Homo sapiens: one gene and its partners. The protein of the gene in region 1 purifies or fractionates together with the protein of each later gene. This does not show direct contact. Each region holds a gene or a part of one and is shown in the gene's direction. Other genes may lie near its edges.

Region 1 (6,520 bases):
TTCTCACACTTGGTGCCCAGGTGAGAGGGGTAACCTCTCCTGCTCCCGGGCCCCCACACTTTTACAGATGACAAGAGCACGAAGACGTCAAATAATTTGTCCAATAATATCACCTACTTGGTAAATGGTGAAAGATTCCAGTCCCCATGGCCGAATCCAGACCCAGGTTGTCATCCCTGTGATGCACCATTCAAAACCCTGCAGCTGTGCCCCTGGGAATAGGAGTAGTTCCAGAAAAGCACACAGTCCCCCCACAGTCTTACTCTAACTTGACCCAGACCCAGCAGTTTACACCAGTAGCTGGGCTTGCTCTTCATCCTCTCTACCACCCCTGGGGATCCACCAACCCTGCCCTGAAACTTGAGTCATCCTTTGTGCGCCCTGCTATGACCCCTGGGTGGGCATGTCCCCAGTGCCTTGTGACTGCTCCTCACCGACCTGTCCCAACCCCTCCCCCTACCTGGTGTCACTGCGTTCACATTCCCAAGCTGCCCCATCCAGATTGGCACTGCCTCTCAAGAGTTCCTGATCTTTGCCACAAGCTAAGGTTTTGTGTCGGTTGCTCAGAGGCAGGCCATCTTGGTGACCCTCGTGGCCTACGTGAGGATCCCTGCACCAAGGGTCCCACTGGATGAAGTGGGCAGTTTCACTGTTTCACCCAGGATACAACTAGGCGACGACCAGACTCCCGGCTGTCCTTCTGGGACTTTATCCTCACATCTGAGTCTCAACTTTCTCCTGTTTTGTTTTCTGAGACAGGGTCGCACTCTGTCGCCTAGGTTGGAGTGCAATAGTGCAATCTCGGCTCACTGCAGCCTCTGCCTCCCAGGTGCAAGCGATTCTCCCACCTGTGTGTGGGCCAGGTGCGCCGGACCTCGGGGCTCCCACCCGCTGGGACTACGGGTGCGCGCTGCCACGCCCGGCTAATTTTTGTATTTTTAGTAGAGACGGGGTTTCACCTTGTTGGCCAGGCTGGTCTCAACTCCTGACCTCAAGTGATCTTCCTGCCTCGGCCTCCCAAACTGCTGGGATTACAGGCGTGAGCCACCGGCCGACTCTCCGGTTTTTAAAAGTGCTCTGAGAACATTCCGAGGACACTGGGTGCAGAATGGCAGGTGCTGGCTTGTGCCTCTGCTCTGGTCTCCACCTCCGGCAGTAGACTGGGAAGAGCCCTGGGGGAGTTACTTCTAGGCTTCCTCCCCAGCAAACCTTCCTCGAGGCATAACCAAACATCTGCCCGGCATCCGAAGACTCGCGCCACTCTCCCGTCGGGCTGCGCCTCCCTCGCCCGCGCGGCACCGCCGGTCCAGGTCGCAGTTGGAGCGCGGTCGGGGAGGGCAGAGGTGGCGTCGGACCCTCAGGGCCCCGCAGGAGTCGCAGCGCAGGGCCGGAGCGCGCCGGGCCGCAGCTTCCCGCGAACAGGAATTCGCTGGGGGCTGCGACGGCGACAGCGGCGGGGACTGAGGGCGGGGAGGCGGCCAGATCAAAGAGAGCCGCCCACAGGGTCAAGACGGGTCGGGGAGCGCCGAGGGGCCCCTCGGAGGAGGGTGGGGGACGTCCAGGTGCGCGGACCCTAGAGCTGTGCGGGCGCCCACGCGAGGAGCCGGGGCCAGAGAGGCTGTGCGAGCTGCGCGCCCCCGCCCCGCGCGGCCCCGTGCCCCGCGCGCCCCTCAGGATCGCCGGGTCCCGCCCCCGGAGGAGGCGAGGCGGGGCGCGACTGGGTTCGCGGCCGCGTGCAGAGGTGCAGGCAGAGCAGCCTCGGAACCGAGACGATGCGTGCGCTCCGCGACCGAGCCGGGCTCCTCCTCTGCGTGCTGCTGCTGGCGGCGCTGCTGGAGGCGGCGCTAGGGCTCCCCGTGAAGAAGCCGCGGCTCCGCGGACCACGGCCTGGGAGCCTCACGAGGCTCGCAGAGGTGAGTGGCGGCGGCACCGGGCTGCGGAGCGCGCTGTCGGTCCCACCTCCCCAGCCCGCCGGCTCCAGCCGTGCGGGGAGCGGGACCGGGACACACACAGGCAGCGACCCCCCGATGGAGAGAGGGGCCGGGGCCGGCCGGAAGCTCCCGGACACCGGGCGTTGCCCAGGTGCGCCGGACTTCGGGGCTTCCACTCCTCGCGCGTGACCGCGAGCCGGGCTGCCGCGGACCAGCCGGGTGACAAGTTTGACTTCTGTGCGGAGTGAGGTGGCCGACACTCCACGGTGGCCGGGCTTCCTCGCCCTGAGCGGACCTCGCCTGCAGCCCCCTTTCCAGGTGCGCGCTAGCTCGGAGAGGAGTCCCGCCGGTGCGAGGAATCTGGCGCTTTGCGGAGTGGCGGGCCAGGGCCGCTGAGGTTCAAACGGTCAGGTGAGCCCCTTCCATGAGACAAGCGGAGGCACAGTGGGGCTCTCCAGCCGCCGGCAGGGGTGGCCAGCCTGAGACTGGCTCTGTCCTCGTGGCCTGTGGGTGGGCATTGGGGTATAAAACAGGAATGAGATGGAAGAGTGGTGTTGGCCATGGAGAGAAGCCATGGTCTGTCAAACCCTGTGTCTTCCAGTCACTGAGGGGTCTACAGTCCAGCTTATTGCCCCCTGGAATGCAGCGGACGTTCATTCCCATGGGGACAAAGACAGCCAGACTTGTATTAGGGTATGCAGGAGCAGTCCTATGTGGCAGGTGGTCTTAGGTCTTGGGTCCTGGGTCCTTCCATGTACTAAGCTGTAGGAGGCCCGAATAGCTCTTCCCATCTTGCCGTTTTTCCTTCCTTCCTTCCTTCCTTCCTTCCTTCCTTCCTTCCTTCCTTCCTTCCTTCCTTCCTTCCCTCCCTCCCTCCCTCCCTCCCTCCCTCCCTCCTTCCTTCCTACTTTTTCTTTCTCCCTCTCTTTTATTTTATTTTTGGGACAGGATCTCTCTCTGTCACCCAGGCTGGAGTGCGGTGGTGTGATGATAGCTCACTGTAGCCTCAACCTCCCGGACTCAATCGATCCTCCAGCCTCAGCCTCCTGGGTACCTGGGAGCGCAGGCATGCACCACCACACCTGGCTAATTTTTTTTATTTTTTATTTTGTAGAGATGGGGGGGTCTCACTGTGTGTCCCAGGCTGGTCTTGAACTTCTGACCTCAAGCAATCCTCCTGCCTCAGCCTCCCATAGTGCCAGTATTACAGGCATGAGCCATGGTGCCCAGCCATTCTTCTTCTTCCTTTTTTTTTTTTTTTTTTTTTGAGACAGAGCCTCATTGTGTTGCCCAGGCTGGAGTGCAGTGGCACGATCTTGGCTCACTGCAACTTCTGCCACCCGAGTTCAAGCTATTCTCCTGCCTCAGCCTCCCAAGTAGCTGGGATAACAGGCGCCTGCCACCGCGCCTGGCTAATTTTTGTATTTTTAGTAGAGACAGGGTTTCACCATCTTGGCCAGGCCGGTCTTGAGCTCCTGACCTCATGATCCACCTGCCTCGGCCTCCCAAAGTGCTGGGATTACAGGTGTGAGCCACTGCACCCAGCCATTCTTCCCATTTTTGAGATGACGACACTGAGGGTCCATATAGGCATGCAGGGTGTGGGAGATTGTGAGTGAGTGAGTGAGAGAGTGAGAGCCAGAACTTGTCCAGACTGCTGAAACCCTCCAAAGGCCGTGGGAAGGAATGGGGAGACTGGCTGCACTTGAGGATGTGTCTGTAGACCAGTTTTGCTACCTTTTTTTCTGCCCCCTTAAGGAGTCTTTTAGGTTTTTTTCCTGTCCCCACTCCCCATGAATTTTTTTTTTTTTTTTTTTTTTTTTTTTTTTTTTTTTCCTGAGATGGAGTCTCACTCTGTCACCCAGGCTGGAATGCGGTGGCACAATCTTGGCTCACTGCAACCTCCGCCTCTCGGGTTCAAGCAATTCTCCTGCCTTAGCCTCCCCAGTAGCTGGGATCACAGGCTCACGCCACCACGCCCGGCTAATTTTTGTATTTTTAGTCAAGACAGGGTTTCACCATGTTGGCCAGGCTGGTCTCGAACTGGCTGGTCTCGAACTCCTGACCTTATGATCCACCTGCCTAGGCCTCCCTAAGTGCTGGGATTACAGGTGTGAGCCGCCACGCCCGGCTATTTTTTTTCCCGGAGACGGAGTTTTGCTCTTGTTGCCCAGACTGGAGTGCAATGGCGTGATCTTGGCTCACCACAACCTCCGCCTCCTGGGTTCAAGCGATTCTCCTGCCTCTGCCTCCCGAGTAGCTAGGATTACAGGCATGCGCCACCACACCCAGCTAATTTTGTATTTTTAGTAGAGATGGGGTTTCTGCATGTTGGTCAGGCTGGTCTTGAACTCCCGACCTCAGGTGACCTGCCCACCTCAGCCTCCCAAAGTGCTGGGATTACAGGCGTGAGCCACCATGCCCGGCTGAATTTTTTTTTTTTTTTTTGGCATGGAGTCTTGCTCAATCTCGGCTCACTGCATCCTCCACCTTCCAAGTTCAAGCGATTCTCCTGCCTCAGCCTCAAGAGTAGCTGGGATTACAGATGCCTGCCACCACGCCCAGCTAATTTTTGTATTTTTTTAGTAGAGATGGGGTTTCGTCATGTTGACCAGGCTGGTCTCAAACTCCTGACCTCAAGTGATCCATCTGCCTTGGCCTCCCAAAGTACTGGGCTTACAGGTGTCAGCCACCACGCCCGACCTCCCCATGACATTTTAATACCATAGATACACTGTCTATGTATTATAGCCCTTTGGAATGTCACAAACCATTGTAATATCTTAAGACTTTTTGGTCCCTCACAAGATCTAGTTATTGCCCCTATTGAGAATGCATCCTTTAGACTGGCTCTTCTCAGCCTCGGCACCCTCGTCATTTTGGGGCATATAATTCTTTGTGGTAGGGGCTGTTGTCTTATGCTTCATAGAACGTTTAGCAGCATTCCTGGCCTCTACCCACTAGGCGCCTGTAGCACTTGCCGCCTCACGAGGCCCAGACACTCCACATGCTTCCTGTGGGACACCCTATCCCCACTGCCCGTAGTGGAGAATGACTGTTGTAGACAGATGAGGCCTCTCGCCAGTCCCTCCTCCTACATGGAGATGACAGTGATAATAAAATTAACTAAATTGGCATTGTTTCTGCTCACTTGGCATGAATACTTTCTATTTTAGTACTTACTGCTTTGTATTGTAATTATTTTTAGCATGTTTGCCAAATCTTCCCCTAACAAGAACACCCTAGAGGATGAGTTATTTCAGAGCCAAAATCATATCCTCAGCTCCCGTACAAAGCCTGGCAGAGTCATCAAAAACATGTGAAAACAAATTAGTGCCACAATGAAAAAGCAGAGCTTAGAGTCTAGGCCTTGGAGTTCTGGTCCCAGTGGGTCATTAATGCATGTGTGACTCACCTCGGATGATTTCCTCACATTTAAAAAGAGGGGCCTGCGTGGTGGCTCACACCTGTAATCCCAGCACTTTGGGAGGCCAAGGTGGGAGAATTGCTTGAGCCCAGGAGTTCAAGACCAGCCTGAGCAACATGGCGAAAACCCATCTCTACCCCCCAAAAAATACAAAAATTAGCTGAGCGTGATGGTGCGCCCCCCGTAGTCTCAGCTACTCTGGAGGCTGAGGTGGGAGGATCTCCTGAGCCCAGGAGGCAAGAGTTGCAGTGAGCTGAGATCGCGCCACTGCACTCCAACCTGGGTGACAAAGCGAGACCCTGTCTCAAAAATAAATAAATAAAATGAAAAAAGAGAGCTGAGAGAGCCTAAGTCATCTTTATGGTTCTGTCCAGCTCTGACATCGTTCCATGAGTCTTCATGATTTGTGTTAAAGCTGTCTATGGCAAAGGTGTTAGTTTAAGGAGTCATGTTGAGAGAATGCAGATTGCTATTCTAGGGACTTGGGTGGCGTGTCACAAATAACTGACCAGGCTGGGTGCAGTGGCTCACACCTGTAATCTCAGCACTTTGGGAGGCTGAGGAGGGTGGATCACTTGAGGTCAGGAGTTCAAGACCAGCCTGGCCAACCTGGTGAAACCCCATCTCTACTAAAAATACAAAAATTAGCCGGGCATGGTTGTGGGCACCTGTGGTCCCAGCTTATTGGGAGGCTGAGGCAGAAGAATTGCTTGAACCTAGGAGGCAGAGGTCATAGTGAGCCGAGATTGTGCCACTGCACTCCAGCCTGGGAGACAGAGTGAGTCTCCATCTCAAAAATTAAAAAAAATTGAAAAATAAAAAAGAAATAACTGACCAGCCCAAAGACCTTAATGAAGAAGCTAAAGAACATCAAACCCCTGAATCTAAAAGTAAAGGTTGCTGAAAGGGAAGTGAGCATTTTCTGGGCCTTACAGAGTCCATATGAATTACTTAACATGAGAATATTTCATTGTTACACCACTTTGACATGGGCATGATCTCCATTTTCCAGATGAAAAATGGAGGCACAGAAAAGTTAAGCCTAGCCAGGAGCCAGGTCTGGGACCTTATGGTACATCTTTGCATGTCATGTTCTAGTCTGCTCATCTGAAGTCTTGAAAAGAATCACAGGGCCGGGAACGGTGGCTCACGCCTGTAATCC
Region 2 (5,946 bases), on another chromosome or scaffold:
AAGATACTGATTTTAGTGTCAAAGCAGGCAAGGCCACTGTCCTGCCTAACTTCTAGCAAGTCCAGAGGCAGTGGGCTTAGTGAAAGCAGGTGTGGTGGGGCGGGGGTGGCGGGGGGTGCGGTGAGGCTGCCTGGGACAGAGACACAGGTGTAAGCAGGAGTCGACTGTGAGGCTCTGGCTGAGATCCCAGGAAGGGAAGCTAGGTATTCCTGGGAAAAGCCTGTGAAGTCTCCTGGAGTGCCCAGCAGAATTCACGTGATGAGAAAACACACAAACCTGGCCAAGTCTATGCTCCCTGTTGGTTTTTGTGCTTTTGTCCTTGTGAAGCCTCTTCTGGAAGCTCTGCATGGGTGATGCTGAGCCGTACAAGTCAGTGGATATCCAGATGGAAACACACTGGCTTAGCCATGCCACTCACATGTAACAGTGGGGCACTTCCATGCTGGTTGTTAAATATGCTCTGCCTTGAGACCCCCTGAGTGCCCTCCGGTTCCTAGCTGCCCTGGTCTTTCCTTGGGATCTCTTTCCCATGTTCAGCAATCAAAGGGTTGAATCCTGACACTTGAGGGGCCTCTTGGACCCACTTCTGTGCCTGTGCCATAGTGAACATGCTGATTGTCACCCCTGCAAATGTGCCACTTGGATAGAAGGAGGCCTAGCCCCACTTCCATGATGGGAACAATCCCTTTTCCCTCTGAGTAAGTCTTGATTCACTGTTACTGTTGAGAGTTCTGGTTCCACCATTGTAATCTTGTGGCCTTGCCTCTAGACTGCCTTATGGGTGAGGTGTTTTTAAGGAGGAGGGATGTCTTGGTACTTCCATATGCAAACCCCCCTGAATGGGTCTGGGATAGGCTGGGCCTGGCGGGGAACTCTCCTCTATGGAGAATTACATTGAATTCATTGATGTGTGCTCACCAGTGATCACTCCTGTCCTTAGAGTGGAACTTGACCTTGTTCTCTTAACAGTGTGAAGATTCCTTTACCTTGGCCCTGTGCTTGATCTTCATGATGAACCCAGTATGGAGTTGGCAGGAAAGCTGTCTTCAGATTACCTGCCCAGTCCAGAAAGCCTCTCCCACCTTTCTCTATTGTAAACCATGGAAATAAAAGGGGCTCAAGACACTAATCCATCTTCCCTGATGGGCCCCCACCTTTCTAGGGTTCCCTGCTCTAAGCAGGTGGCACTGTGCTCCTGCCTGGCTCTTGCCTCCTGCAGCACAGGGTGAAACACTGGCATTTTTGCACTTAGTCATGTCTACTAGTATGGGCCCCAGAAGCATGGGGTGTTTTATATGGATTAGGTTTCTTAGCATGCTGAAATGTAGATGACAGTGATTCATCAGGGCCGGATTTGGAGATAAACAAAAACTGTCACATAGAGTCTCACTCATAGGCTTACATTTAAAAAGCTTTCCCAGGCTATGGGAGTTATATGAGCCCCTTGTCTCACTGAGGCGGGCTGTCACAAAGAAGCAGTTAAGGGCTGGCTGCCTGGGGGCTGGGAAATGGGCCGATCCCTCATGGCTCAGCCTGCCCTTGCTGGCTGCTTGCCCTGGTCAACTGTCCCTTCTGCCGCAGCCTTCCAGGAGCTCCCCATGGAACAGAGAGTCTCTCCTAGGCCACTCTGCTGACCACCTCCTCCTGCCCATGGCTGGCAGTTTTCTGTCCCTAACTCTTAGGGAAGAGGAATGGCCAGGAGGGTTGGGGGTAGAGTTACTGAATTTCCAGAGTTCAGGTCAGGACATGCATTTGGGCAGGGACAAGGGTACTTTCGGGACTGTGGTTGCTCTGGTTCAGTTTCTTAACTCTGGCACCATTGACATTTTTGGCTGGCTTTTTTTTTTTTTTAAGACAGTTGTACTCTGCCACCCAGGTTAGAGCTCAGTGGTACAACCAGAGCTAACTGTAGCCTCAAACTCCTGGGCTCAGGTGATCCTTTCACCTCACCCTACCGAGTAGCTAAGACTATAGGCATGTGTCACCACAGCAGGCTAATTTTTAAATTTTTTGTAGGGACAGGGTTTCACTATGTTGCCCAGGCTGGGCTCAAGCGGTCCTCCTGCCTTGGCCTCCCAAAGCATTGGGATTCCAGGTGTGAGCGACTGCACTGGGCTGGATCATTCTTTGTTGTGCAAGGCTGTCCTCTGCATTGTATGATGTGTAGCAGCTTCCCCAGCCTCTCCCCACTAGATGCCAGTAGTTCTCCCACCCCTGATCTTCCAAGTTGTAACAACCAAAAATGTGCAGACATTGCCAAGTGTCCTGGCGAGGGTGGGAGGTGGGCAGAATTGCCCTTGGTAGAGAACCACTGCCTTAGTCCGTTAATTTTGATTTCATTCCTTCTGTCTGAGCCATTATGGTTAGACCTTCTTGTAATGAGACTGCCTTTCTGTGTGGTCTGGGGTGAACCACTGTGGGGAGGGCTAATATATTAATACGTTTTAATTTTCAAAATTTAATAAACACTTTCATGGCACTCACTGTGCATAGAAATAAAAGGGCTGCATTTCATCTCAGCCCTTTTATTTCTTCTAGTGTACTGATGAAACTGAAGCACAGAAAGGTTAAGTGACTTTCCCAAGGTCACAGAGCTCACAGGTGGCAGACCCAGGGTTGTCTGGTGGAAGAGATCTCCTCAGGGCCTCTGGAGGCAGTGGGGTTTTTCTGCAACTCCTGGCCGAGGGTTTCTGCCAGCCAGCAGTGAACCTGGCTTGCTCCTGCTCCCTGGGCCTCCCATGCCCCTTCCTTGCATTGGCAGTGCCCTCATACTGCGGCCTCATTTGGAAAGTTCCTGGAAGGCATCTTGGAGCAGATGCACACTTGATAATGCTTTGATAGTAGTGCTGGTCTGTTTTGCTTTTTTTTTTTTTTTTTTTTTTGAGACAAAGTCTCACTCTGTCGCCCAGGCTGGAGTGCAGTGGCACAATCTCGGCTCACTGCAACCTCCGCCTCCCGGGTTCAAGCGATTCTTGTGCCTCAGCCTCCTGAGTGGCTAGGATTACAGGCACCTACCACCATGCCCAGCTGATTTTTGTATTTTTAATAGAGACAGGGTTTCACCACCCAGGCTGGTCTCAAACTCCTGACCTCAAGTGATCCACCCACCTCGGCCTCCCAAAGTGCTGGGATTACAGGCGTGAGCCACCGTGCCCGGCTGCTCTTTTCTTCATTTTTACCTTTTGCTCCATGGAATTTGTGTTCCTACCCTCCAGGCCTCTGCCTGTCCTGAAGGCCGCAATCCTCAGCTGCCCCTCCGGAAGGAGCAGAGATGAAAACTGGCTCTGGTTCTTTTCATTTATTCTTTCAGTGAGTATCTCTTGAGACCCTCCTATGTGCCAGGCACTGCTTGAGTGTTTGGGAGTACACCAGTTGTTGTAGCAGACACGGAATCCTTGTGGTCTTGGAGCTTTCATTCTAGTGGGGGGCTGCGGGGAGCCAGACAGTAGACATGAAGTCAGTTACGTCGTGTGCAGAAAGGTGCTGTGTGCTGTGGAAAAAATAGAGCAGTGTATGGGGATTAGGGATGAGGGCGGAAGGATAGTTGCAGTATTAAAGTGGTGATCACGTAGGCTCATGGGGAAGGCAGGATTGGAGCTGAGACTAAGAGGGAGCCATTGTGGTTCCCTCTGCTTCAGAGGTAGCCCCTGGTTTCATCTTCGTCCAGCCTCTTTTTCGGTGATCTCTCTACTCCTTGGTTTCTTTTGCTAAACAAATGAGCCAGTTTTCTTTCCCGAAGGATGTTGCCTTTGGTTGGCTAGTGGTGGAGTTTCCCTCCATGCTGTAGACATCTTGGTCACCTGTTCTTGTTCTGGTCTCCTCGATGAGGCATGAATGCATCCTGGTTAAAAGGTTGTGTGTACTCTCATAATCGCTTCCCTTACTACAGACCTGCAGCTGCTCGAGGCAGTTTTAATTTAGACTGCTCCAGCAGTTTAATTTGCTGATCAGCTTCGTGGGATATGCTTGTGGAACAATCTCATTTCTTGATTCCTGAGCTGACTTCTGTGAAGCACCAAGCATCGGGTAAGTCATTCATTGTTAGGTGCACCATTGAAGAACAGTACACATTCTTAAAGTGCTTTCTGCACATATTGCTGTTTAACGAGAAATCCCCCTGGGTCCCTGTGCACCTTTTCCAGCACAGGATTTCCGCTGTGATGTGATCTTTGGGAGTTGCTGCGGGTGGGAGTGGGGTTTGTTGATTCATATTTGCAGGAAACCAGAGATCAGATGCCTGCCTGATACCCAGGCTTTGGAGAGGGGGGTTATTCTTGGCAATGTGGGTAACACTGAGCTTCTGTGATAGATAGTATTGTACTTGGGGACAGTAAAATGGAGATGTGACTTCATGGCCAATCTCAGGGAGGCGGAACTGTGGGAAGTTGTGGCTGGTCCTGGTTCTCAAGGTGAGGGCATGCAGGTGCTTTTCATAGAGGCCATTCTCATTTATGAAGGGTCATTAGATATTTTATCGGATTGGTAGGTACCAATCCCATAAAACCATTGGGATGGTTAGGCACCGTGCGTCCAGTGTACTTCTGGATAAAACAACTGGAGCATTTACATGGCGGGAAAAAGAACAGGTAATTTGAGAGGCCTTCACATTCAAGAGTGGCCATCAAGGTTTCTTCCTCTCTGCGTCAGAGACCAGTCCAGGGAGTGAACTCTTTTCTTTCTGACAGGCTGCTGCCCTAGAAAAATGACGCACTTCAAATGAAGGGTCTTTCTTAGCTAAATTGCCCTGTGAGAGCTTGAGGAGCCGGTGCAAATTAAAGGCCTGTGTTTTGGAGATGCCCATGAATTAAGTACTCTGTTATCAGTATTTGGGTAAGTGTAGATGACTGTTGGGTAGGGGCATTTGTATGGCTGTCCTGGATGATGAGAGGGTTGGCCCAGTGTGGGATGCCTCCCAGTCTCATTGTTTCCTCCTTGCTGCCTCTGGGGCTTTCCCCTTGACCTAGATGTTGAGCTTTTGCTCTGTGACCTTCAAAAGGCCTGCCCTGCCGCACTCTCCTTCCCCTCCTGCCCTTGTCCTGCCCCATCCCCTGTGCCAGGGAGCTCACTTAGTTGTCTTCCTGTCTCACTTTTGATCATCACTAATTTCCCCTGTGTCTGGAATACAACTTTTTCATCAATTCCGAGAGGCCATTATTTGTCAAACATGCCATTATTTTGTGGACCACTAGGAAAGAAAAAACACTGTCCATTGACCTGTGACACAACGGGTTCTTATCAGTTGGCATTCTTATTTTCTACTTATTGAAAGAGCTCTTTCAGACCGAGACATCAATTTTTCCATATATCACTCTCGGGCATAGATAGATACAAAGGAAAATACAAGTGAAATACATTGAGCAAAGTGTTCTAAAAGTTTTTCAGAGTCCAAGCACTCTGAGTCACTTTTTGACTCAGATGTTAGTGCCTATTTTCTTCAAACAGAGTCATCCACTGTGCCACCAAAAGCGCTGGTGATGTAGCATTTCCTAAGGAAAAAAATCCATAAAAATACTAAGAGCCATTGGTTCTGGACTTTGAAGACAGCTTGGCAATGAAGTCGAGGTAGCCAGCCTTTGACTCTTCTGGGAATTTTGCCTAACTCCTCAATTCACCATCCATTCCTATCCCACCATGATTTGGTTTTTAGGGATTAAGAGTGCTTGCTTCATTGTCGTTTCTTGGATTTTCTTCTAAGCCATTGACGTATATGTCCTGCAGATGTGGATGATTGAGCATGGGCTGGTAAGAATGCATCATGGGCCTTGCCCAGCCCATAGCATTGCCGACGTCATTGATTGTGAGCTGCATTCCAGTCGGGGGTGGTGGAGGAAAGGGCATCTTAGAATTGACCAATTACAGCCTTTCTTTTTCTCGTGTGTCACATTGCAGTTGGGCCTTCATATCTGCGGGTTGCACATCTGCAATTAAGGCAATTCCTACTTTATT
Region 3 (5,946 bases), on another chromosome or scaffold:
AAGAGACATGGTTTTTGTACTTAAAGGATTTATACAATAGTCAAATGTATACAGTAATATAACCATTAGAAAAGAATTTCACTATAATATATAATAGTATTCAAAATAATATATTTTAATATACTGTACACATAAGAGATCTGGAACTGTGGCATAAGGCTTAATTTTAGAGGGGATTAATTTAGTTTGAGAAAGCTTCCTGAAAAGTTAGGTTAGGTATTTGTTGCATGACAGGTATAAGAACAGAAGTGGTTGATTGGGATGTTTTAAAATTGGGGTTAGTGGAATACTTTTGCTTAAGGTTTAAATTTAATATTTCAATTTAGATTATTTGTGATATAAATTCTGAAGCATTTATTTGGCATGAAGGTAGACAAGATCCAGAACCTCACTGAGAACATAAGAAGTAATGCTAGGGACACTTACTACAAATAAAGATAATTGAAGACTTACAAAATTGATTTGCTGGGAGGTGCCATTTGTTTAAGTTCCTAGGCACACAGTGAAACTTTGCAAAAGAGGCATCTTGTTCTCCCAGCCCAGCCTAGCAGCCCACTCTGTGAGATGCCTTAACTGCATGATACACACCTCCCCATTCTGCAGAGGCTAGTGATCATCATGACCTAGAAAGGGAAATATTTTAGTTTTCTTTTTTTCTCTACACTTTGAGTGTATTTGGGTGCTTCTTAAAACATTGTAATACTCTTATAATCAGTTATCTGGAAAGTTTCAGAAAGGGTTGTCTGCTTCTCATTTACAGAAAAAAAAATACCTTACACGCCAGGGAACCATTTAATGTAATTAAAGAAAACTGTATAAGCCAATTTAATAACAATGTAAGTTTATGTTTACTCTCACTTTCAGCTAGTGCACTCAATCTGCTAAAGGTCAAACTGTAATGTTTAATCTTTACATTTCTCTTGTTTCATGTAAATAGATAGCATTCCATTAACAGAATACCTGTCAATGGACTGTAATGGATAATTCAACAGTAGATATTTTCTAATGTATTTTTTATATCAAATTCTTTGAGGAAAAGTTTTTTCCAAATAGGAAAGTAAGTTCTTTCCTTTTCAGGAACACTTGATTCTGTGTAGTCTTTTCTAATTTGTGACAGAGAATGTTGTCACTTTATTTTTAGATTAATTACTTGTCTCAGTAGAATATTAGAGATTCAAGGTGACAAGAGACAGGTATAAGATAACTGTGACATAAACTTTTCTTTGAACCATATGGAGATGAACTGATTCTAGAACATTTGTGAATTTGGATTTCACTCAGAAATGGCTTTTTGTTAATGATTATGTTCCTAAGAGAATCTAGTATGTATAGTCTAGAGTTTTTCACTTCTTAAAAAAATAATTGCAATACGTAAATCCTTAGTATTTTGAGCTACTTGGTTGGGGATGTCTATGTCAATGGGAAATAATTACATTTAAAGGTTTTTGTGAATTAGAAATAGTAAATTAAACATAGATGACTGTGTCCTTAAACTACCTTAATGAGTATGTAAGAATGGATTTGTCATATAGATATTTTGTAAAGGTTGTAAAGTTGCTGCTTTCAGTGAGTTAATGATTTCATAATGGTTTAAAATAAGAACTCATATACCTATTATATCCTAGATCAGTAGTTCTCATTGTGGGGAAGGGTAGGGTTGGAGAGGTTGCCTCCAGAGGATATTTGACAGTATCTGGAGACTTTTTTTTTTTTTTTTAAGAGACAAGGCCTTGCTATGTTGCCCTGGCTATGTTGCCTGGGCTGGAATATAGTGGCTGTTCACAGGCTCTAACTCGGGGGCTCAAGTGATCCTCCTGTCTCAGCCTGCTGAGTAGCTTGGACTATAGTCCTGCAGCACCACACCTGGCTGAAGACATTTTTGATTATCACAATTTGGGGGTTGCTACTGACATCTAGTGGGTAGAGGCAAGGGATGCTGCCAAGCATCCTACATTGAAAAGGACAGCCCCATACAACAAAGACTTAACTTGTCTAAAATGTCCATGGTGCCAAGGTTGAGAAACCCTGGGTTAGAGTAAGATAAATGGAAAGTGCAGCATAGGTTCAAAGAGGGAGGGATAACATTTGATTTGGTCGTTTGAACAGCAGAGGGGGGCTTTATAAAGAAGTTGGAGGATTGGCCTTTAGAGAGGAGGCATCAGATTTTATAGTTATTCTTAGATGGAGGAAACTACATGAATGCTGATATCTCAGAGTCTCCTCAAACTCAATATGTCAAATAATGAACTCTCGTTATTCACCCTAGGCCCCCTTGTCACCCAGATCTAAAACTTGGGAGTTATTCTCCACTCTTCCCTTTCCCTCAGCCTCTATATCTAGTGAGGGACTAAGGCCTGTTGGTCATAACTCTTTGAATAGCTTTCAGATCAGTTTCATTCCTTTCTATTCTCAATGTCATTGTTCAGATTCTCCTCTATTCCTTACCTTTAACTGGACCTGTCAGTAGTTTTCTAAATGATCTCTCTGTCTCAAGTTTTCTTCAACTTAAATTAGTTAGTCCTCCACACTGTAGCTAAACCATTCTTTCTAATATGCAAATCTGATTGTCATGTGTTACTAAAACAATGTTACTAAAACACCTTCAAGCCAGTAGCCAGTTTTCAAGCCGTACGTTTCAAAATCTTATTTCCTTATTCCTTGTTTTGAACATTAAAAAAAGTAATACATACACTATGTTTTATTTAACTGTGGTAATTTTTATATTTTATTAGTTAAAATTAAATTGCTAAGATTCATCCAAATTGTTATGTAAAACTGTGGTTCATTCTTTTGGATGGCTGTGTTATCTTGCATCATGTGAATATACCATCTTTATTCACTTTCTCACTGATAGCCATTTTCATTCCCCCCTCCTCCTTTTTCTCTTGGGAATAGCACTACTATCATTATTATACATGTCTCTTGTACTTGTGCAAGGATTTCTCTTGTGTATATACTTGAAAATGGAATTGCTGGGTTGTATAGTATGTCAGTGTTCAAACCGATTTATCATTTCTGTTTCCATTGACATGTATAGGAGATCCTATGAATCTATGTGCCCTCCAAAACAGTACTGTCAAATTTAAAAATTTTGACCAAGTGTGTTTAAAAAGGTATTTCGATGAAGTCTTTCTTGATTTACATTCCCCTGATCACGAATGATGTTAACCTTTCTTCAGATGTCTGTTGGTCATATGTCTTTCCTGTACTGTGAAATAGCTTTTCATTTATTTTGCCCATTTTCTGTTGGTTGGTTGTCCTTTTTTAAAAAATAGAATTCTATGGGTTTAAAAAAATACTCCTTATACTAATCATTTGTTTTGTATATTTTGAATATCTTGTTTATAACTTGCCTTTTTGCTCTTTGAGGGGTGTTTTGATGGACAAATTTGTAAATTTTAATACAGCCAAATGTATCAATCTTGAATTTTGTAGTCAATGATTTCTGTGTCCTGTTTAAGAATATGTAAAATATATTCATCTACATTTTTTACTAAGAGTTTTAGTTTTGTTTTTGGTATTAAAGTTCTTAATTCATATGGAATCGATTTTTATGTATAGCACGAGGTGGAGTTCCATGTTCCTGTTTTTACATATGGATTATCTTTTTTCAGATCCATCCTTACCTATGTTGGGGCTCAGAAAACAATACCCCCAAATGAAGGCCTCAGCAGCAGCCTCAGAAGCAGAAGTTTTGCACTGACTTTGTCCTGCCCTCCTGTCTCTCTGTCCCATTCTCCTCCAAGGCTAGCCGTAGAAACTAGAATCCCTCTTCCCCAAGGAGGATCACAGAAGCCAGAACCCCTTTTCCTGAAAGCCAGCCATAAGACCTAAAAATATTACTCTAATTTCCCCTCTGCCTTTCTGTGTAAAAACTGGACACAAAGAAATGATCTAACCTACCTTGTTTGACTGTAGGTCTTAAGACCCCCATTCCAGAGAGGGCCCTGCCCCACAGTCAGAAGGAAGGAATACAGGCTCAGAGAGGCCTAGAAGAATCTATTTAATAGGCAGACAGGCCTTGCTAGGTTTCCCCACTCAGTCTGTCAGCTTTAGAATATATTCTTTTTGGCCAATCATATTTCTGCACAGCTGGGCTGTCCATACTTTGTTGAACCTAAGCATAAAATAGGCAATTCCTCCTTTGGGTCTTAATTCTGAAGGCTCCCATATATATACTTTAAGTAAACTTGTATGCCTTTTCTGCTTTTAATCAATCTGCCTCATTTCAGTGATTTTTCAGTGAAATTGTGAAACTTTAGGGACCAAGGGCCTTGGCTTCTGTATCTACTTCTTTTCTCCCTTTCTTTTTTCTTTTTTTTTTTTTTTGACAGAGTCTCGCTGTATTGCCAAGGCTGGAGTACAGTGGCACAATCACGGCTCACTGCAGCCTCAACCTCCCAGGCTCAAGTGATCCTCCTACCTCAGCCTCCCGAGTAGCTGGGACCACAGGGGTGTGCTACCATGCACAGCTAATTTTTGTATTTTTTTGTAGAGACAGGGTTTCATCATGTTGCCCAGGCTGGTCTTGAACTTCTGGACTCAGGTGACCCACCTGCCTTGGCCTCCCAAAGTGCTGGGATTACAGGGGTGAGCCACTGCACCTGGCCTACTTCTTTTCTTTTTAACATTTTATTGAGAGTTCACAGACCAAAAGTGGACCAATTTAAAGTATATTGTTGATTGGTTGTTAGCTGTGCACCCATCACTATAATTTAGTTTTGGAATATTTTCATCTCCCCCTGAAAGAAATCCTGTACAAATAAATCCCTTTCCATTCTCCCTGCCTCCTCCCCAACCAATCAAACCCTAGGCAACCATTCATCTATTTTCTGTCTCTATAGATTTACCCCATCTGTACATTTTATGTAAATGACTTAATTCAGGATGTGACCTTTTATGATTGGCTTCTTTAACTTACTATGTTTTCAAAGTTCATTTATGTTGTAGCATGTACCAGTATTATGAGAATTCCAATTTTTTTTGCATTCTCAGCAGCAGTTGTTTTTATCTTTTTGTTTATAGCCATCCTAGTGGGTATGAGGCAGTATTTCTTTCCTTCTTCTTCTTCTTTTTTTTTTTTCGAGACCGAGTTTCGTTCTTGTCGCCCAGGCTGGAGTGCAGTGATGCAATCTCGGCTCACTGCAACCTCCGCCTCCTGGGCTCAAGCGATTCTCCTGCCTCAGCCTCCTGAGTAGCTATGATTACAGGCGTGTGCCACCATGCCTGGCTAATTTTTGTATTTTTTTTTTTTTCCAGTAGAGACGGGGTTTCACCATGTTGGCCAGGCTGGTCTTGAACTCCTGATCTCAGGTGATCCACCTGCCTCAGCTTCCCAGAGTGTTGGGATTACAAGCGTGAGCCACCGTGCCCAGCGTGAGTCAGGATTTCATTGTGGATTTGATTTGACTTTTCCTCATGACTAATGATGTTGAACATCTTTTCATGTGCTTATTGACTATTTGTATATTTTCATAAGCAAAATGTCTATTAGGACCCTTTGTCCATTTACTAATTGGGGTGTCTTTTCATTACTGAGTTGTAAGAGGTTTTTTTAAAAAAAAAATTCTATATTCAAGTTTTTTATCAGATATATCACTTGCAAATATTTCTTTCCTATTCTGTTGGTTCATCTACTCTGAAACACAAAATTAAAACATACTGATATCACCTATTTTATCTATTTTCTTATGTTGCTTGTGCTTTTTGTGTCATGTCTAAGGAAGCATTGCCTAACCCAGGGTCAGAACGATTTATCCTTATGTATTCTGAGTTTATAGTTTTAGCTCTTTCATTTTTTTACATTTAGCTTTACTGCTTATTTAAGTTGATTTTTGTGTGTCATGTAAGATCAGGGTCCAACTTCATTCTTTTACATGTGGGTATCTAGTTGTCCTAGCACCATTTTTTGAAAAGGTCATTTTTTTCTTCATCTGATTGTCTTGT
Region 4 (5,946 bases), on another chromosome or scaffold:
CAATCTTTTGCTGGTACAAATGGTGCTGCATGAGTGACCTTGTGCCAATGTCATTTTGTATTTTTGCCAGCCTTTGTGTGGGATTGATTCCTAGACATGGGCTTTCTAGGTCAAAGGGTAAATTCATATGTGATTTTGCTGGATACTGCAAAATTCCTCTCCATAGAGATGACACCATTTTGTATTCCCAACTGTAGTATATAGGAGTCTACTTTTTTATAATCTCACAGAGTGTATTGTAAAACTTTTTTTGCCAAGGCAGTAGGTGAGAACTAGCATCCCTCAGGGTAGTTTTAATTTGCACTGTTTTAATAGGAGCAAGGTTGAGGATCTTCTCCTGTGTGGAAGGACTGTGTGCATGTTTTCTTCTGTGAACTATCCATTCATGCCTTGGATTAATTAGCCTGGTTACAGTGACAGAGGACCTCTGTGGCTGTGGATCTCTGTAACAGCAGGTCAAGTTCTCCTTCATCCTTCTCATGACATGTCTGCTGTGAGGGAGCTGCAGCTCTGGTCTGCCCCCAACATCTGCGCATTCAAGCCCTATTTGGAATGTGCCAGTGTCATGGCAGAGGGCAAGAGCAAGAGCTGGTAGAAACATGCCTTGTCTTCTAAAGCCTCTGCTCAGCTATGGCTTACATCCACTTACATGCCACTGGTTAGAGCACATGGCCAAAGCCGTTCTGGGGAGTGGAGAAGGAAGGCCATGTATACTCTCCCAAAGGAGATACTGCAGGTTGCATGGCAGGAGGGCAGGGTGGAGAAATGTGAAATCCTCTTGCCCACATTTCTAGAGAAGGACCTTGTGGTGGTGGTGGTGGTGGTTTCATTCCAGTTACAAAAGTTTTAATTTACCTATGTTTGTGTAAATGTTTAAATGATGTCCATCGAATATGTGGTAAGCTCTTTGAGGGCAGGAGTATGTTTTTTTTGCTTACTCTTATATCCCCAATGCCTACCACAGTCTCTAGCACTTACTAAACAATCTGTGCATAGTTTTGAATGAATGAATAATTATGAGTGTAATTATTTTCTTCCTGACTTTTCACATATCTATAGGTTTTCATGGCCTAATATATGATAATAAAACTGAATCTATGAAGACAATTAACCTCCTTCAGCGAATGAATATTTACCAAGAGGTTTTTCTCAGTATTTTATATAGAGTTCTACCCATACAGGTATGTTTTGTGATATTGAATTATTAATATCAGATGAAAGTCAAAGTCTGCCATTTTGAACTGAAAGTTATCACATCGTTCTTTCTGATCTTCAACTGGTTTAGTAGAAAATCAGCAATACTATATTTTTTTTCCATGTATATTATGAACTTTATAAGATACTGCTTTTTATTTACATAGGATATAAGGTTTTTGTACACAGATGCTTCCTGGCTTATGTATGTATGCGGTCTAGAAGCTAATAAATATTTTCATTTGCTCTCTGTAATCAGGAGTGATTACACATTCACTCCTGATGGATCTTTGAGAGAAAAAATTTGTAAAGTCAGCAAATCACAATGACCACTTCTCATGTGAATGACGTATCATCAGACAAAGTTAGGTATAAAACTTTCTAGAGTAAAGAGTGAAGCCAGACCTGTCACGGACTTCCTTCCCCTGTCTCTTCTCGGTGGTGGGAAGAAAGGCTACCCGAACGCTTCTCTAATAGATGAAAGGGGTGTGGGCTTGCTGCTTGGAATTAGAGGCAAGCTCCTGCATATTGTATTCCTACTGTCATGTTTTAAATGGCACTGAGGAGGGTTAGGGCTCACCTGACAAACATGTTTTATTGTTCCCTTTTACAGAAATATTTAGAGCCAGTTTATTTTTATATTTACACCTTATTTGGGCTCCAGGCGATCTATGTCACAGCTCTCTACATAACCAGCTGGCTACTCAGTGGTACATGGCTGTCAGGACTGTTGGCAGCTTTCTGGTATGTCACAAATAGGTGAGTTGGAGTCAGTATGCTTCTTTTTTTTCCAAAATGTAAGTAAAAATGAAGTCACTTCATTTCCAGCTCAGAGAAATTTCTTCTGCCACATTTGTTTGGTTGGGAGCAGTTTCTCTTTGGTTTGCCTGGTGGTTTACTCAATTTTTCTTATTTAGTTAGGGAGAAAGTGCTACTTACATGTAATTCCAGCTGAGGAACAGAGAGCATTGAATTGCATATCAAGAAAATCATTCATAATAATCCCAAACCTATTATCTGTTTGCTGGGTGATCAAGATTTCTCCAGCCGCATATCTCATCTCTTAAAGGGTTTTTTTAAATTGGCAAATAATAATTATACATATTCATGGGCTACATAGTGATATTTCAATACATATAGAATGTATAGTGATCAGATCAAGGTAATTAACGTATCAGTCATTAAAAAGTTTTTTGGGTTTTTTTCTTGCTGTTTTTTAAAGCCAATGAAGACTTTTAAAATTTTTATTTATTTAGGGGTTGTTTTTGTTTTTTGTAGAGACAGGATCTCCCTATGTTGCCCAGGCTGGTCTTGAACTCCTGGCTTCAAGCAGTCCTCCCACCTTGGCCTCCCAAAGTATCAAGATTACAGGCATGAGCTACTGTGCCTTGCCTAAAAAGTTTTAATTATATCTTCACTATCAACCTTAATAGGGTTGTGTATGGCTCTCAGTTAGTAGAGCTTAAAGATAAAATGCAAGGGCGTTTTTGCCTTATTTAATATCTACTATTATAAGCAGTAGAGCCTTATGAAATCACATTTTAAAAAAATGTATTCAAGATCATTAAATTATTGCCTGTCCTATAATGGCAATACCAGTATTCAATAGGAGTCTTAAAACTTGAACATGAGTTCTAATACAGGTTTTATTTTGTAAGTCTAAGCAAATTACGTGTTATGACAGTCCTGTTGGGGGTTTACTGTATGCCAAGCACTTTACAATATGTGTTATATGGGTTCTTAGAAGAACCCTATAGAGTAGATATTATTATTATCCCCATTTTAGAAATGATAAAATTGAGGCTTTAAAGGTTACATTTTGTATATAGATACAGATATTACAGACATCTATATATATTTCTTTTATATAGAGATATATGTAGATATAGATACATTGTTTGATACATTGTTTCATATATATCTCTATCTTTTATAGAGAGATATATGTAGATATAGGTACCTTGTTTGAGATGTAGATACACACACGTATATTATGTGTTACATAAGTGTATCATTTATTGAATGCCTAGTATGTGTGGGGATGGTGTACAAAGATGAAAAATTTTACCCATACTTGCCCTGTTGGGATTCACATTCTAGAGAGGCAGGAAGTTTTTTTAAAAAATACTGTCAATGACATATTTAAGACTCAAGTATAAAAAACACCAAAGAAATACAGAGAGAGGGAAAATGTGTATTGCCTCTTGACACTAATAAAGTGAGGGAGAAATGAAAGTAAGGGTTTGGCATGATACATTTGTGAGTTTAGGAGTAAGGCTAACCTGGGCTTGAACCCTAGGTGCTAAGGGCATACCCATGGACAGAGCACTTAAATGTTCTCTATGCCAATTTTATGTTACAGGGATGATGATGATGATGATGATGATGATGATAAGGACAATTATTGAGAACCAGTGGCCAGAATCTTAAGTATACTTGTCCTTAATGTAATATATCTTTCGTTGAGGAAGTCTTCGAGGAAATTATTGTAAAAACTATCACTTTGGCCATTTGTGTTTTCTTTTGTGCAGAATAGATACCACAAGAGTTGAGTTTACCATCCCACTGAGGGAGAACTGGGCGCTGCCATTCTTTGCAATTCAGATAGCAGCAATTACATATTTCCTGAGACCAAACTTACAGCCTCTTTCTGAAGTAAGTGTTTATAAAATTTCATATATTTTAATCCCCCAATTTTATATATGAAGCTTCAAAAAATGTGATGTGCTTAGTATCCCAATGCATGTGAATAGTTCTTATTCCATGACCAATTTTTAAACTTGAGTTAAATTAAGTTTTCTTTTCGTGAGCTTTTTTCTACTTTGCAAAGAAAATGTTTTCATTTTTGATGTTAAAAATGTACTCTACATAATCTACCCTTAAATAGTTGCAGCAAACCCACACACAATTTCTGCAAACTGTCAGAATTTTTAAGCCCTTGCTCTTGAGATGTGATTTGGTGCATTATCGCCTCCATAATAGTGTGGAATACACACACCGTATGTGAATATTTATATGCAAAGTGTCACTTTATGATAGTTAGAGCTTAAATAACAAATGCAAGGGTTTTCAGAGCAACAGTTTATGGTTTTTCTGTTTGGTTTATAGAGATACTGGCTGCTCTTGAGAAAACTTGTCTGCAAGGTTTTTTATTACTAGAGACATGTAAATTATACAAAGGTTTTCTTTTTACAGAGGCTGACACTTCTTGCCATTTTCATATCAACTTTTCTCTTTAGTCTGACATGGCAATTTAATCAATTTATGATGCTGATGCAAGCATTAGTGCTGTTCACACTGGACTCCCTGGACATGCTGCCAGCAGTGAAGGTGAGCTTTGCTTTCTTTTCTCACTTGAGATTTTGGCCATTTAGTGTTTTTATATCATAGAATGAGATGAAAATATGCAAGTACTTATGGATAAAATTGAAGCTGTTTCTTAGATCTGCTGTAAATTTGCTGTGGCCAATTGAAGCTGAGTAATTTATGAAGCCTAGTTTGACCATCTTAACTTTTATTCGCTTATTTTAAGTTAAAAAATGGAATGGATTTTATTTTGGGGCATAAATGCCTAGGTCAATTGTTATTTATAGAGATGACTTAAATTTTAAAATATAAGATAGCTCTTTTAAAATGTCTTACTGTGTACTGCCACTTTTAAAAAAGAAATCAATAGGTATATAACAGCTTTTTTGTAGTACTTTATAAAATTTTCATAGTCACATTTAACTAATATGGGATGTGAATCCCTGTTGACTGGCTGAAAGTCACATGTGAAATAAAGAAACCAGTATCTGTCTCCTAATGTCTGCTGCTGTCATTTAATCACATTTTTTCATGTGCAAAAATATGATTTTATGTATTGCGTACAGTTTTAAAATGGCTTATAGTTAGTATTCTAAAGTAGTAGTAACTTAAATATTTCCCAAGTATAATAAAATACTTTCTCCATATCTAAGGCAGCAGCATAGCCCAAGGATTTGTGCTCATTTATTCCATATCAAAGGAGATCCAGTAAGCTTCCATAACTGACTGAGTCTGAATTAAGAAACATAAAAGTCTACCAAGAAATACACATTGCCTGTCTACTGAGACACTGTAATAGAATGGGCACTACAGAAAATGCCAATATGTGTAATTCATTGTCATAGCCACAGTTTGCCTTTTAGCTTGGGAAACAAAGATCACAGACAACAAGAACAAGCAGACAAATGATAGCTGCTAATTAGCAATACTGATATATCTAAAAGAAGAAAAGTTATTTTTAGGCAGAGAAGTGTTTACAGAAGTAAGAAGCTAGAACTGGACCACCTAGATCACAAGTGAGGGTAGAATTTGGGTGGGATGTCAGGGGTGGGGGCAGAATAGGAAGGTGGAATGCAGCAAGAGCAAGTAGATAGGACTAAGTTTATATATGTATATGAAATGTTTAGTGTTTCTGCAGGTGTGCCAGTGACCACTCCTACACTGCTGGTAACCTATACACTCCTATAATCTTTCTTTAGTGTAGTTTCACAGTAGGTATCAAAAGCCTAAAAATGTATTTGCCTTTTCACCAACATTTCTACCCCTATAAGTTTGTCCTAAGTAAATAATCTGCCATGTTCATTTTAGTTGTATTGTAATAAGAAAAAGCTGGGCGGAAAAGATAAAAAGAAATAAAAAACTGGAAATGACTTGAGCCAATAGCAATAGGGTATACTTAAATAAATGATGGCATATCTATGCAATCAAATATTATATAACCATTAG
Region 5 (5,946 bases), on another chromosome or scaffold:
GTCTCAAAAAAAAAAAAAAATCAAAACCAAAAAACTGTTTTTATTTTTATTTATTTAAAAAACTTTTTAGGCCGGGCGCAGTGGCTCACGCCTGTAATCCCAGCACTTTGGGAGGCTGAGGTGGGTGGATCATGAGGTCAGGAGTTCAAGACCAGCCTGGCCAAGATGGTGAAACCCCGTCTCTACTAAAAATACAAAAAATTAGCCGGGCATGGTGGCGGGCACCTGTAATCCCAGCTACTCAGGAGGCTGAGGCAGAGAATTGCTTGAACCTGGGAGGTGCAGGTTGCAGTGAGCCAAGATCACACCACTGCACTCCAGTCTTGGTGACAGACCAAGATTCTGTCTCAAAAAAAAAAACAAAAAACCTTTTTACGATAGAAATATTCAAGCATATGCATGAGAGAAGGAGTAGATTAATAGACCCCCAGGTGCCCACTGCGCAGCTTTAATCATTTTCAATATTGAATCTTGTACTTGCCAACTTTTTATTTATTTTATTTAACATTTTAATTTGTGTATGTACTAGGTATATATATTTTATTTTTATTTTTAATATTTTTCTTTTTTTCTCATAAGTCTTCTGCACTCCTATATTTTTAATGTATTTTATTTTTGTAGAGATAGAGTCTTGCTATGTTGTCCAGGCTGATCTCAAACTCCTGGCCTCAAACAATCCTCCCATGTCAGCCTCCAAGCTGCTAGAATTATAAGAATAATTCTAGGGCATTGGTGCCCAGCCACCAATTTTATTTTACTAATCCCATACCTACATCCCACTCTGCACTGAAATATTTTAAAGCAAAATATTGTATCCTTTCACTCAAACATCACTGTGTATCTCCAATAGATAGGCTTGTTTTTTGGGGGACAGAGTTTTACTCTTGTCGCCCAGGCTAGAGTGCAGTGATGTGATCTCAGCTCACTGGAACCTCTGCCTCCCTGGTTCAAGCGATTCTTCTACCTCAGCCTCCCGAGTAGCTGGGAGTACAGGTGCCCACCACCACACCCATTTATTTTTTTTGTTTGTTTTTAGTAGCGATGGGGTTTTGCCATGCTGTCCGGGCTGGTCTTGAACTCCTGACCTCAGGTGATCTGTGTGCCTTGGCCTCAAAAAGTGCTGGGATTAAAAGTGTAAGCCACTGTGCCTGGCCAATAAGTTTTTTTTTTTTTTTAACATAACAAAAATTCCATTGTCACATCTTATGAGATTATTAATTTCATTATATTGTAATATATAGTCCATATTCACATTTCTCTCATTGTCTCCAAAATATGTTTTTAAAAATTTATTTATTATTTTTCTTTTCCTTTTTTTTTTTTTTTTCCAAGATGGAGTCTCACTTTGTTGCCCAAGCTGGAGTGCAGTATTACAATCTCGGCTCACTGCAATCTCCGCCTCCAGGGTTCAAGCGATTCTCCCGCCTCAGCCTCTGGAGTAGCTAGGATTACAGGCGCCCACCACCATGCCTGGCTAATTTTGTATTTATAGTAGAGACGGGGTTTCACCATGTTGGCCAGGCTGGTTTTGAACTCCTGACCTCAGGTGATCCACCCGCTTTGGCCTCCCAAAGTGCTGGCATTACAGGCATGAGCTACCGTGCCTGGCCTTGTTTTCCATTTTTAACAGTAGAGACACTATGTTGGCCAGGCTGGTATTGAATTCCTGGCCTCGAGCCTCCCTTCTGGCCAAAGTGCTGAGATTATAGGCCTGAACCATCATGCCTGACCTAAAATATCTTTTCACAGTTGATTTATTTGAATCTATATGCAAAGCACACGCTATGCATTTGGTTTAATGTCTCTTAAATCTTTTAATCTCTAACAGTTCTGCCTCCCCATTAAAGAAAATGCTATTTATTTGTGGAAATAATCAAATAATTTATCCTGTTGACTTTTTCACATTCTTGATTTAGCTGACAACTCCCTTACATAAATTACATTTTTGCCTATACTAATAACATTCATAGAATCAATGCGTTTTGTTATAAAGAATGATAAAGCTAGGCACCATAGCTCACGCCTATAATCTCAGCACTTTGAGAGGCCGAGGTGGGAGGATCACTTGAGTCCCGGAGCTGGAGAACAGCCTGGGCAACATAGTCAGACCCTCATCTCTACAGAAATTTAAAAAATTAGCAGGTGTGGTGGTGCATGCCTTTGGTCCCAGCTACTCGGGAAAAGGCTAAGGTGGGAGGATTGCTTGAGCCCAGTGGGTGGAGGCTGCAGTGAGCTATAATCGCCCCACTGCACTCCAGCTTCAGTGACAGAGTGAGACCCTGCCTCAAAAAAAAAAAAGAATGATAGATAAAGTATTAAGAAAGTGGTCACTTTCTTCCTGATCTCACTTCTACTGCTGAGAAGCCTTCAAATCTGTGTTTATACTTTTCCACATGCACCAGTCAAGCCATATTTTGTGAATTTGTCTCATAAATAAGCACATCCTTCCCAACCTTTTTGTTTTTACCACCATTTGTCCTTCCCTTATTCATTTCAGCCCATATTTATTGAGTGCCTACTGTGTGCTAGACCCTGGGTCATAGCAGTGACCAAGATAACAATCCCCACCTTTGGGGGAAGCTGATGTTTTAAGGGGGAAGATGGACACAAAGCAACATCAATATGTAAAATAAATAGCATGTCAGAGGCTGATAAGAGCCAGGGAGCAAAATAAGGCAGGAACGGCAGTGGGGTCTTCTGCATTGTTAGGCATAAGCTTGTGCTCATTAAAAACGAAGCACAGGCCAGGCGTGGTGGCTCACGCCTGTAATCCCAGCATTTTGGGAGGCTGAGGTGGGCAGATCACCTGAGGTCAGGAGTTCGAGACCAGCCTGACCAACATGGAGAAACCCCGTCTCTACTGAAAATACAAAAATCATCTGGGCGTGGTGGCATGTGCCTATAGTCACAGCTACCCGAGAGGCTGAGGCAGGAGAATCGCTTGAACTGGGAAGCAGAGGTTGCAATGAGCCAAGATCACACCACTGCTCTCCAGCCTGGGTGACAGAGCGAGACTCTGTCTCAAAACAAACAAACAAACAAACAAACAGAATTGCTCCTGCTCTGGTGTTCTGCCTGGCTTCTAGCATCATCATTTATTAAACAGTCCCCTGCTGTGTGCTTTGTCCCCTGCCGTACACCCCTGCTATCTTTTGTGCACGTGAGCAAGTGTGTCCCTGGGCTTCACACCTAGAAGAGGAACCTCTAGGTGAGAGACCCTGAGGGCAGCCAGCTCATCCTTGAAACAGCCCCAGAGGAGAGTGCTGTGATAACCCTGGTGTTTTAGCATAGGGAACTGAGGCTCCCAGAGGGGCAGGAGTTCTGTGGAGGTGACACAGCCGGGCAGTGGTGGAGTCCCAAGCCCATCCCTGGTCTCCTCCTAGATTGGGGCCCAGCTCCCCTACATCCTAGTTTGGTGACCTTGGAGAGTCACCTCTTCTTAAAGCCTCAGTTTCTTGATCTGTCTAGCAGGAACATTAATGGGTTCTTTTGGAGAAGAAACGAGGTAATCACAGTGACCACTTGGCATAGTGCCTGACACAGAGCGGGAGCTTCCACACACAGTGGTGATCCTTGGTCTTTCTGTGTGGATTTGGGGAGATTGCAGGCCCAGCGGGTACTCTTTAAACCTGGCCTTTCCCTCCCTTCCTTTCCCTCCTCCCTAATCCTTCTCATTTCCCCACCTCACTCTCCTGTCTCCAACCAGCAGATCTCATCTCTGTTTCTCATCCCTTCTTGCTCTGGCCTTGCTTCAGTTTTCTTTCTTTTCTTTCTTTTTTTTTTTTTGAGACATGGTCTCCCTTTGTCACCCAGCCTGGAGTGCCGTGGTGTGATCTCGGCTCACTGCAACCCCCACCTCCTGGGCTCAAGCGATCCTCCCACCTCAGCCTCCTAATTAGCCGGGATCCTAGGCACACACCACCATGCCTGGCTAATGTTTGTATTTTTGTATTTTTTTTTTGAGATGGAGTTTCGCTCTTGTTGCCAAGGCTGGAGTGCAATGGTGCCATCTTGATTCACCGCAACCTCCACCTCCCGAGTTCAAGCGATTCTCCTGCCTCAGCCTCCTGAGTAGCTGGGATTACAGGCATGCGCCACCACGCCTGGCTAATTTTGTATTTTCAGCAGAGACAGGGTTTCTCCATGTTGGTCAGGCTGGTCTCAAACTCCCAACCTCAGGTGATCCCCCCACCTTGGCTTCCCAAAGTGCTGGGATTGTAGGCGTGAGCCACCACGCCCAGCCTAATTTTTGTATTTTTTGTAGAGACGGGGTTTCGCCATGTTGCCCCAGGCTGGTCTCAAACTCCTGGGTTTAAGTGATCCTCCCCTCTTGGCCTCCCAAAGTGCTGGGATTACACGTGTGAGCCACCGCACCCATCCTGCTTCAGTTTTCTAACTCCTTGACACTCAAAGTGTGGCTGGTGGAACAGCAGCATCAGGGCCCACCTGGGAGCTTGTCAGACATGCAGAACCTCTCCCCCTACTCCAGACTCCACCCTGAAATGACTGAATCAGAGTCTGCATTTTAACATTTTAACAAAATCCCCAGCGGATCTGCTTGCATGAAGAAATCTGAGATGTACTACCCTGAACCTCAGTTTGACCTCCGGAATCATACCACTGTTTGCAGGGATTATTTGGGAAGAATAGGTTGGATCAGACCAGCTCATGGTCAGGCTCTCATAAATAGTGGACACTTGTATTGCCTTAAATCCTCCTCCCCAACCTGTATGACCATCTGAGGTGACCACTCTACCTGGTGAGTCCTGGCTCTGTCAGCTCTGGCTGTGTGACTTGTGCCGAGTGACTTAACCTCTCTGAGTCTTGGTTTCCACATCTGTGAAACGGAGATAAATGTACTTACCCCTTCAGGAGAGTTTGAGGGGGCAGAGATTATACCTAGAAAGTACTTAGCAGAGGATTATATTCATTAATTTCATCACAACAATAATAATGTAAACAAGCTCTCTCTTTCTTTTTTATTTTTGAGACAGGGTCTCACTCAATCACCCAGGCTGGAGTGCAGTGGTGCAATCATAGCTCAATGCAATTTCGATCTCCTGGGCTCAAGTGATCCTCCTGGGCTCAGCCTCCTTAGTAGCTGGAACTACAGGTGTGCAGCACTAGGCCCAGCTAATTTTTTGGATTTTTAGTAGAGATGGGGTCTCACTATATTGCCCAGGCTGGTCTCCAACTCATAGCCTCAAGTGATCCTCCCACTTCAGCTTCCCAAAGTGCTGAGATTACAGGCATGAGCCACTGCACATAGCTTCTCTTCTCTCTCTCCTTTTTTTTTTTTTTTTTTTTTTTTTTTTAAATAGAGAAGGGGTCTTCTGTGTTGCCCAGGCTGGTTTCCAACTTCTGGGATCAAGGGATCCTCCCACCGCAGCCTCCTGAGTAGCTGGAATTACAGGCTTAAGCCACCACACAGGCTCCAATCTTCATTTCTTTTTTCCAAAAAAAATTTTTTTTTTTCAGAGACAGGATCTCACTATGTTGCCCAGGCTGCCCTTGAATTCTTAGGCCTAAGGGATCCTCCTACCTCAGCCTCCCAAAGTTCTGAGATTACAGGCATAAGCCACCACACCCGGCCCGATCTTTATTTCTTTTGATAGGCCTCTGATGTTTCAGGGTGAGCTCTAGGGTCAGAAATACCTGGGTTCGTGTCCCAGTTCTGCTGCCTAGAAGCTCTGTGTGACCTCGGGTGCATTATGTCATCTCTCTGTACCTCATTTTGCTCATTTGTAAAATGGGGCTCACAGTTGCCATGAAGTGCCAAGGAGCTGATGTCCATAAAGTCCTGGGCAGAGCATCACAGTCAATCCACGTAGCCGTTGCATTTGTCAGATGGTCCTAGTTAATATTACCCTCTAAAGGCTGTAGCGGGCCTTACATGCAAGCTGCTATGACTTGCTCCCCTCGAGGGGCTCCAGGCTGTAGAATCCC

The links.
Region 2: the proteins of ISM2 (region 1) and GALNT2 purify together in Homo sapiens (affinity purification with mass spectrometry; one large-scale study listed by BioGRID and IntAct). This does not show direct contact.
Region 3: the proteins of ISM2 (region 1) and LRCH2 purify together in Homo sapiens (affinity purification with mass spectrometry; one large-scale study listed by BioGRID and IntAct). This does not show direct contact.
Region 4: the proteins of ISM2 (region 1) and DPY19L3 purify together in Homo sapiens (affinity purification with mass spectrometry; one large-scale study listed by BioGRID and IntAct). This does not show direct contact.
Region 5: the proteins of ISM2 (region 1) and PHLDB3 purify together in Homo sapiens (affinity purification with mass spectrometry; one large-scale study listed by BioGRID and IntAct). This does not show direct contact.

Annotation. Positions count from the first base shown.
Region 1 is NC_000014.9:77,494,046-77,500,565, reverse strand, and holds the start of ISM2 (isthmin-2 isoform 1 precursor), read left to right. Parts: upstream 1-1,749; 5' UTR 1,750-1,772; coding exon 1,773-1,913; intron 1,914-6,520.
Region 2 is NC_000001.11:230,072,262-230,078,207, forward strand, and holds part of GALNT2 (polypeptide N-acetylgalactosaminyltransferase 2 precursor), read left to right. Parts: intron 1-5,946. UniProt on the Homo sapiens protein: Catalyzes the initial reaction in O-linked oligosaccharide biosynthesis, the transfer of an N-acetyl-D-galactosamine residue to a serine or threonine residue on the protein receptor.
Region 3 is NC_000023.11:115,223,065-115,229,010, reverse strand, and holds part of LRCH2 (leucine-rich repeat and calponin homology domain-containing protein 2), read left to right. Parts: intron 1-5,946. UniProt on the Homo sapiens protein: May play a role in the organization of the cytoskeleton.
Region 4 is NC_000019.10:32,435,387-32,441,332, forward strand, and holds part of DPY19L3 (protein C-mannosyl-transferase DPY19L3), read left to right. Parts: intron 1-1,059; coding exon 1,060-1,181; intron 1,182-1,807; coding exon 1,808-1,953; intron 1,954-3,725; coding exon 3,726-3,849; intron 3,850-4,389; coding exon 4,390-4,524; intron 4,525-5,946. UniProt on the Homo sapiens protein: C-mannosyltransferase that mediates C-mannosylation of tryptophan residues on target proteins.
Region 5 is NC_000019.10:43,479,634-43,485,579, reverse strand, and holds part of PHLDB3 (pleckstrin homology-like domain family B member 3), read left to right. Parts: exon of another isoform or gene 1-34; intron 35-5,946.